2 linked regions of the Homo sapiens genome follow. The protein of the gene in region 1 interacts with the protein of each later gene in a biochemical or structural test. Each region holds a gene or a part of one and is shown on either strand. Other genes may lie near its edges. The genes, in order: SPTBN1 and CAMSAP1.

Region 1 (3,915 bases):
ACTCCAGCTTCTCCGCCTCCTTCTGCAGGTCACTCAGCTTTGCCTCAATGGCCACCAAGTCCCGCTCCATGCCGGTCAGCTTGCGCTGCAGGGCCATGACGCCAGCCAGGTCATTGCCCAGGTCCTGGGTGGACTCGATGACCTTGGTCTTTTCCCGAATCCAGGATTTGGTTTCATTGCACTCGAGGTGGTAGTTCTGGATGCTCAGGGCAGACAGGAGGGCATCCTTCTTCCTGTCAACCAGTTCTCTGAACTGGCTCCACCTGTGAGTGCAGGGGCAGACAGCGAGTGTGAAAAAGGGAAGACTGACCATGGCTGGATTGCAAAAGGAACAGTGATGGGTTAATGCTGCTTATCTGTTTTCTCCATCTGTGCTTTGACTACATGCTTTTTTGGAAAATCATCTCACTCAAACTGTGAACACCAAATATAATGGAAATAGCTCAGGGATGCAATGTAATCTGGAAAAAGCCTGTCACGAAGAGGAATGTGTTACAGAGCTCCAATGTGAGCAATTACAAGATATCCATTCCCAGAGTCAATTAATTCATGTCTGTGACACATTTTACACATCTCTGAACTCTACCTAATGAACGTTTTCCAAATCTAAGACTGATGGTAACCTTCAAAACTGGGGCCAGGTGCCATAACCTACTCAAACATGTTTACTCAACAGAAAGATAAGACTGGAACAAAGGTCTGCCCTGACAATCAGGACTTTCATTGGCAAATTAAGTGTTAAACATGCTAGAGTCCTGTTCCTGAAGTTACTATAAAATGGATAGCACAGGTGTCATCTTAATACCTTCTACACTGGACACAGGTCAAACCAAGGCCCTAACTTTGGTGTGGCGAGGGGCAGATGCTGGGCTGACTCAGATAATCCTCCTGCAACCAATGATGTTGCCCTGAGAGACACTTCTTACAAAACAAGGACATGTCAAAAGGCAGGTGCCAATGCCATGACATCAGTGTTGCAATGTCGATGACCCCATGTGGGAAATTCCCAACAGCAAAGCTCGATGAGTGACCTCACCCTCCCCAGTCCCACACGTGGGAGGCTGGCACACTGCTGGCCACGTGCTCACCTTGTGTTGAGTTTGTCCTGCTGGGCTTTGATTTCCTTCTCACTTGGGTGGCCGCTGTGCATCAGCTGGCGTGCAATCTGGTTCACCACTGCAACCCGGGAAGCCTGGTTGTTCATTTCTGGTTCTAGGCTCTCAAATCTGAAATGGCAATTTGACAGGGTGGTCACCTCCTGGGCCACTGGTGGTCACAAGGAACAGGCCAGTGGCTGACCAGCGCCCCGCTCACCTGTGCTGGATGACCTCCAGATCCTCCAGCTTCTCTGGGATCTGCATGTTGTTGAGCCACTGCTCCTTCTCGTCGATCCAGAGCTCACAGGCATCAGCCTCGCTGAACATCTTGTACAGGGCCAGAGTGTCCTGGAGTGCCTGCTTCCGCAGCCGCGTCAGCTCTGCCACCTCCTTATACCGCTCCTCGATGCCCGACAGCCTGCCCCTCACGTCTGGAGACTCGGCATGCTCCTGGGGGAGGGCGCTGGCTTGTTCGTGCAGCGTGTCAAGGGTGGGCCTGTAATTGGCGATCTCTTCCGCCACGTCCTTGTGTTTCTTGACCAGAGACTGTGTGGAATACTCATCGTGGCCCACGTCGCTGCTGGAGACAATCTTGAGGATGTCCAGCATCCAGGCATCAATGTCATCAGCATCTGCCTGGAACTGGTGCAGCAGGGAGGCCTCCTCCAGGCGCTTCTTCCGAATGGCCGAGAGCTGCTCTAGGTTGGCCCACTGCTCCCGGATGTAAATGATCCTCTCACGGATCTTCTCCGACCCGAAGTGCTCCTCCGCGATCATGTCTTCGCCTTCCTTGATGGCCTGCTCAAAGTGGCCACTGCGGCCGCTCATCTCGTCCTCGAACGCCCGGTGCTTGCTGAGCAGGCGCATGACGCTGGTCAGGTCTTTCCCGTAATCGTCCGAGGACAGGATCTTCTCCTTCTCCCGTATCCAGCCTTCCTCTTCTGCCATCTCCCAGAAGAACTTCCAGAGGCGGCGGGACTCTTCCAGACGGGCCCTGCGCTCAGCCGCCAGCTGGCAAAGCTCTTGATAACAGAACTCCATGTGGGCCACGCGGTCTCGGATCACCTGGGGGTCACAGGGCTTGTAACCTGTTTAACATCAAGGAAGGAACGTGGCTGTGTGAGGGAGCTCAGCATGGGTGCAGGCTCACTGGCAGGCAGTAAGCTACACCCCATATTCTTATGATTACCAGCTCACTGCTAAATGTAAATGCAGGGCCATGCGATAAGGCAATGGAGCACCTTCTAACAACTTGACTAGAACAGGAGTGAGGGCAATGATAAACATTATTTTTTTTTGGCCAAACCGCAGACAAAGTGATCATCCTCCTGCAAGAAAGCACTTGAATCATATGAAAAAGGCAGCTGCATATAATTGTTTCTAGAAATACACGAAGCATAACCAAATCATTCTAAACATCCTCCAAAGAGAGGTATATGCAACCAGCTGTGAAAGCCAGGAGCTGCTGGAACAGCCACACCAGGGTGTCGGTGCATGGCCAGAGAGACTGAGGTATGACAAAGTCTCACTGCCAAACACCAAGCCACTCAAAGCAAAGGCAGCATTTGCGTATTTAAGGAAAGGATGTATCAATTCCAGAAAAACAAGATGGAGTTAGTGTTCAGAAGGCCACTCCACCGTATTTCATGCTCCCATGACAAACCCACCAGGAATGTATAGTGGCACAGTAACTTCAAAAGCCCCACTGTGTTTCTATAAATATGAATCTCTGGTGACCCGGAGGTAATGCTTGGAATGGGCCATCCTTACCTTCCCCGTCTGTTGCGAACTTCTGGGCGGAGGCATTGACACCTCTCACCCGCTCTGCCTGGATGCCAATGTCTGCTTCAACCAGGGTGTGCTTCTGTAACAGGTCTTCCACACCAAGTAAGTGTTTGCCATAGTCTTGAGACAATACTAGCACCTGTGCACAAGAAGCAACCAAAAGGACATCTGTGACTATAGCCTTGACTTCAGCATCACATCATCTTTCGACAAGCAGAGAGCCAGCAATGAAGCTATGCCTTCCCTCTAGTCTGCCATGGACCCCACACCTTCAGGGGAAGATGATGGCCAACAAACCAGAACAAAACAAATCATACCTGAAGGCCTGAGTCAGGAGAGCTATCACAAACTAAGGATCACCAAACTTGGAATAAGTAAGTCAAATCTACACTAAAAAGTGCAGAATAGAAGAAAAAGATGGTGAGGGCCAGCGGGGCCAGGGTGGGGGGGAGGGGGCAGTGGGGAGCGTGGGCGGGGGTGCTGTATGAAAGATTCCAAAATATAAACTGGAGCTTCAAGAAGAAACCGCTGCAACAACTACTCAAAAATAAATAAATAAAGGTGATAGACTTGGTCACTTCAAAGTTGAAAGAAATCTTTTAGAAGTTGCTGAGCCTGTAAGTGAATGTTTTTCCTCTGTTAGGAGCTTATTGGTATGCCTCTACTGTACTTACACAATCAATGGGAAAACAATCTACTTGAAAAGCTTACAAGCCACATCTTTAAACCAATAAGGAGAGCAGGGTCAGGTGGCTGTCTTGCTTAGTAGACCCCAAGCAACTTCTAGAGTTTAAGTTTGAACCCACTGATATTTTCTTGTTTCTTCCATCAACCAGCGAAATTTGGGGGCCTCATTCTACATCCTCGCCAGATGAGATTTCTACTTCACTCTTACTTCTGAGGAAGTCTCTGGACCAACTGAGTTACAATGTGCATCATGATTTATAAAATGAAAAGTCCCTCTCTGCTACATTTTACGAACATTTCTATTTTGAGAGGTCAAGAGAGACCAGACCTAAGAACACTGTAAATC
Region 2 (3,915 bases), on another chromosome or scaffold:
AATTTGTCTCTTTTTCTCCCAATTATTGATCTTTTGATTTTTTCTGCAGTTTGAGATAGATTCAAGTAACACTCCCAAGAAAATATGTGCAAAACTAATGTTAGTGGCTCCAGAATCTTCCGGCAGCTGGTCAGTTGCAGCAGTGTCTGGCAGCCATGGCTGGCACGCACCTGCTCCTGGGAATGTCCGCGCTCCACAGAAGCATCAACACCATTGGGACCAAGGCAGAAAGAACCCAAAGCCATCCACTTACTTGGAGTTCTGAAATAACTGCAAATAACCACTTAATTGTTTTTAAATAGGCAACAAAACAAAAGTATCCATCTACAGGGGAAACGGCACGCTCCTCTGAGAGCATGCAGCGCTTCCAGATGCAGAATCCAGACAGGACAAGCCGTGACCTAACAAAACCACTGAAGGGACTGTCAGCTTAAGTGCATCACCTTTTGGGACAAACATGCTCAGAATGAAAAATATTCTACTTTACCAAAATCTGTCTTTATTAAAGTGAACAAACCATTAGAGCACTACCCAAAACTTAATGAATGATGGCTGCAGTTGGCTCGGCTTGCCTACTTTAAATGAGGCAAACATCAGCTCCTAGTGCCATTCCCCACCCTCATGACCGCGTGCCAGAAGTCATCATCTTCACATTTGTAGACGTTGTTCTAGCGGAAGACAGGCTTTGCAGATTTCGGTGCTTTTAGTGAACTGGTGTTTTCCGTAAACTTTTTCTGAGCAGCAAGGGATAAGAATTTTTTTTCAGAAATCTTAGAATTGGATATAAATGTTGGCAGTAGACACAACCAATAAATATCATACAATTTCTCAAATGAAAAAGATTTCCCATTATGAATTCCTTTGCTATAGACATTCAAACACCCCAAGCCAAGATTGAGCCTCAGTCCCATAGTCACGAGATTACAGCTGGCCAATATGAGGGTGTCAGGCAATGTGCAAGGGGGCGAGGTGAGAAGCAAGAAAGCAAAGTGGATCACGTCTAATCTATGCTGAAGGAGAACTTCAAGTAAGGGAGCTCCGTGGCCCGGGACCTGGCTGTGAACACCCTCCGCTGGGAGCCTCAGTGGTCAGCAGTGGCCACAGCAGTGCGAGCCACTGCAAAAGCGGCATCTACTCCCCCATCCTCACCCTGCCTGGCATCCTCTGCGTGAGATGAGCGCTGAGAGAGGGGTTTTCTTCTGCTGTCTAGAAACCTCTTTGCAAAAGGTCTGTGACTTTGCACACTTCGTACCCAAATAGATGAAAACAATAAATAAGGACCCCGTGGCACCCTCTGGATGCCAGCCACAAGGGCATCATTTACGAGTCTGGGTCACCCTTTGGACGCCAGCTGCACCGGGGTCATTTACGAGTCTGGGCCTTCTTTGGCACTGCAGGCCGCTTGGGCTGCCACAGGTGGTTGTGGATTGTGAGTGCGTCCACACTGACAGACATGGTTTTGGCTGGGATCAAGTTAAACTGTTTTCGGTCTGAGCTGTATTTATACAGTTTGTCGATCATTTTCTTGGTGATGTTCTTTGGCCCCGTGCCAGTGAGTTTGTAGATTTCCTCAGTATCAGGATAGTAGCAGTAAAGCGCCCTGAACTGGCAGCCAGCATCACGAAACAGTATGATGTAGTGATTGGCATCACACTTCTCCAGCTCCTGTGCAGAGAGAGAAAAGGGGAAGAGACAAACACTTCAGGGCCACTCCAATTGCCACGAGTTGGGCTCCCACAGCGGCTCAACCAGCACCGCTCCGTGGGAAGCTCTCCCACCCGTCAGCTACGGCCTGCCTGTTGTAAACAATTACAGCAGACCCCTGTACGGGAGCATTATATGCCATTGAGACTTTACTTAAGAAGTCTAAGCAAGCAAGGGGGAAAAGAATGCTTTTACGATTAAATGGAAAAGCATATGAAAAGATGCTCATCATCAGCCACCAGAGAAATGCCAGTCAGAAAGAGACGTCGCGTCATGCCCACAAGGACGGCTGGAACCCAGAAGCAGGGCGGTAACGAGTGCTGGCGAGCCATGGGGCTCTTTCACTGCCAGAAGGATACAGAGCACAGCAGCTGCTGTGAAAAACAACTTGGCTCTTCTCCAAACCATCAGGCAGTTACCGTGGGACCCAGCAATTCCTCTCTCACATATGTACTCAAGGGAAATGAAAACACGCATCCATACAAAACACTGCATATAAATAACAGCACTATCCCTTCACAGGCAAAAAGTAGAAACGAAAATATCACATGTACCCCCAAAAGCATGCACATCTGTTCCCTATCAATAAAAAATGTTTGAAGAAGAATCAACCCAAGTGTGCATCAGCAGATGACGAGATGAACAGCATGGGGTCGGAGCATGCAATGGAGCATTACCCAGCTACAAAAAGGAATGGAGGTCCGGTACACACTACACTGAGAAACCTCAGAGCATCACGCTAAGTGAAAGAAGCCTGACCCAAAAGGCCATATAATTATGATGCCAGTTATGTAAATGCCCAGAACAGGCAAATCCATGGAGACAGACTGGCGACCGCCAAGAGCTTGGGCGCGGGAAGACTTAGGGGGGTGACTGTTCACGGGCGTGGAGTTTCTTTTTATGAGGATGAAAATGCTCTGAAATTAGGCGGTGGTGATGGTTGTGCTACTCTATTAATGTACTAAAAACCACTGAATGGTATAACTTAAAAGGGTGAATTTTACGGTATGTGAATGATATCTCATAAAGCTGTTTGGGCCGGGCGCTGTGGCTCACGCCTGTAATCCCAACACTTTGGGAAGCTGAGGTGGGCGAATCACTTGAGGTCAGGAGTTCAAGACCAGCCTGGCCAATATGGTGAAACCCCATCTCTACTAAGGATACAAAAATTAGCCAGGCGTGGTGGCACATGCCTGTAGTCCGAGCTACTCAGAGAATCGCTTGAGTCTGGAGGGGTGGAGGTTGCAGTGAGCTGAGATTGCACCACTGTACTCCAGTCTGGGCGACAGAGTGAGACTCCATCTCAAAAAAAAAAAAAAGAAGAATCTGAAGTATGACAAACTGCTGATGCCTGTCGCCGCGTTTGTTGATTGTATTTTAAAGTTTAAAACGTATCTTCAAGTGTTTTGGTAACTTTTAAAAACAAACCCTCCACACGCCTGGGAATGGGAGTGCACCTGGGTCTGCCCTCACAGTTCTCCACATGCGGCCCAGGCATCCTGAGGCCTTCCCAGGAATCTCAGGGTCAAGCCCTCGACCTCGAAAGGCTAAGGCCTCATCGCCTCTCCCAAGTGTGCGGCAGAACCTTCCCAAGGCCCTGGGCTGTGTGGTTGTAATGGACGGAGGGCCCGAGCGGCTGAGATGCCAGCCCTCTTATGTCAATGCCACTCTTCTATTTATTTGGCTTTAGAAAAGTTACTTTTCATAAATATGCAATGTATCAGCATATAATGGGGTTTATTATTTTAAATAATACGTATTTTTTAAAAGAATCCAAAACTGTCTATATAATACTGATTTCAACCCTACTCACTGTGTTTAAATATGAACAGAATTAGATGCCAAAAAGAAAGAAACATTTAATTTGTAGCGACAGCGGGACTGTGGGGAGTGGGGTTCATCTTATTTACTTATTGCTGCCTGCACGATAAGGAAGCGTGTGGTGCCCACAGCTTATGTGGCACAGCTGAGAGGGCTGCTGTCCTAGAAAGGCCTGCCTGCTGGGCGGCCCTTGGTGGGCACCTGGGAACTTGCTATCTGCAGAGCTCGCTCCCAGTCACTCACTGGCAAGACAGGAGGGCCTCCTGAGCCTGAACTGCTGGTCTGCACGCTGACGCTGGTTTCCTCCCAGGCGTCAGGCACACTGCTGCACACTGGGCAGGGAGTGTGCCTTGTGACCAGCCCCCAAGGAGAGCTCAGGGCATCCAGTCT

The links.
Region 2: the proteins of SPTBN1 (region 1) and CAMSAP1 form a complex in vitro, tested with the Homo sapiens proteins (one study listed by IntAct).

The regions. Positions count from the first base shown.
Region 1 is NC_000002.12:54,627,203-54,631,117, reverse strand, and holds part of SPTBN1 (spectrin beta chain, non-erythrocytic 1), read right to left. Parts: intron 3,022-3,915; coding exon 2,868-3,021; intron 2,186-2,867; coding exon 1,315-2,185; intron 1,227-1,314; coding exon 1,089-1,226; intron 264-1,088; coding exon 1-263. UniProt on the Homo sapiens protein: Fodrin, which seems to be involved in secretion, interacts with calmodulin in a calcium-dependent manner and is thus candidate for the calcium-dependent movement of the cytoskeleton at the membrane.
Region 2 is NC_000009.12:135,809,947-135,813,861, forward strand, and holds part of CAMSAP1 (calmodulin-regulated spectrin-associated protein 1), read right to left. Parts: intron 1,666-3,915; coding exon 1,363-1,665; 3' UTR 1-1,362. UniProt on the Homo sapiens protein: Key microtubule-organizing protein that specifically binds the minus-end of non-centrosomal microtubules and regulates their dynamics and organization. Specifically recognizes growing microtubule minus-ends and stabilizes microtubules.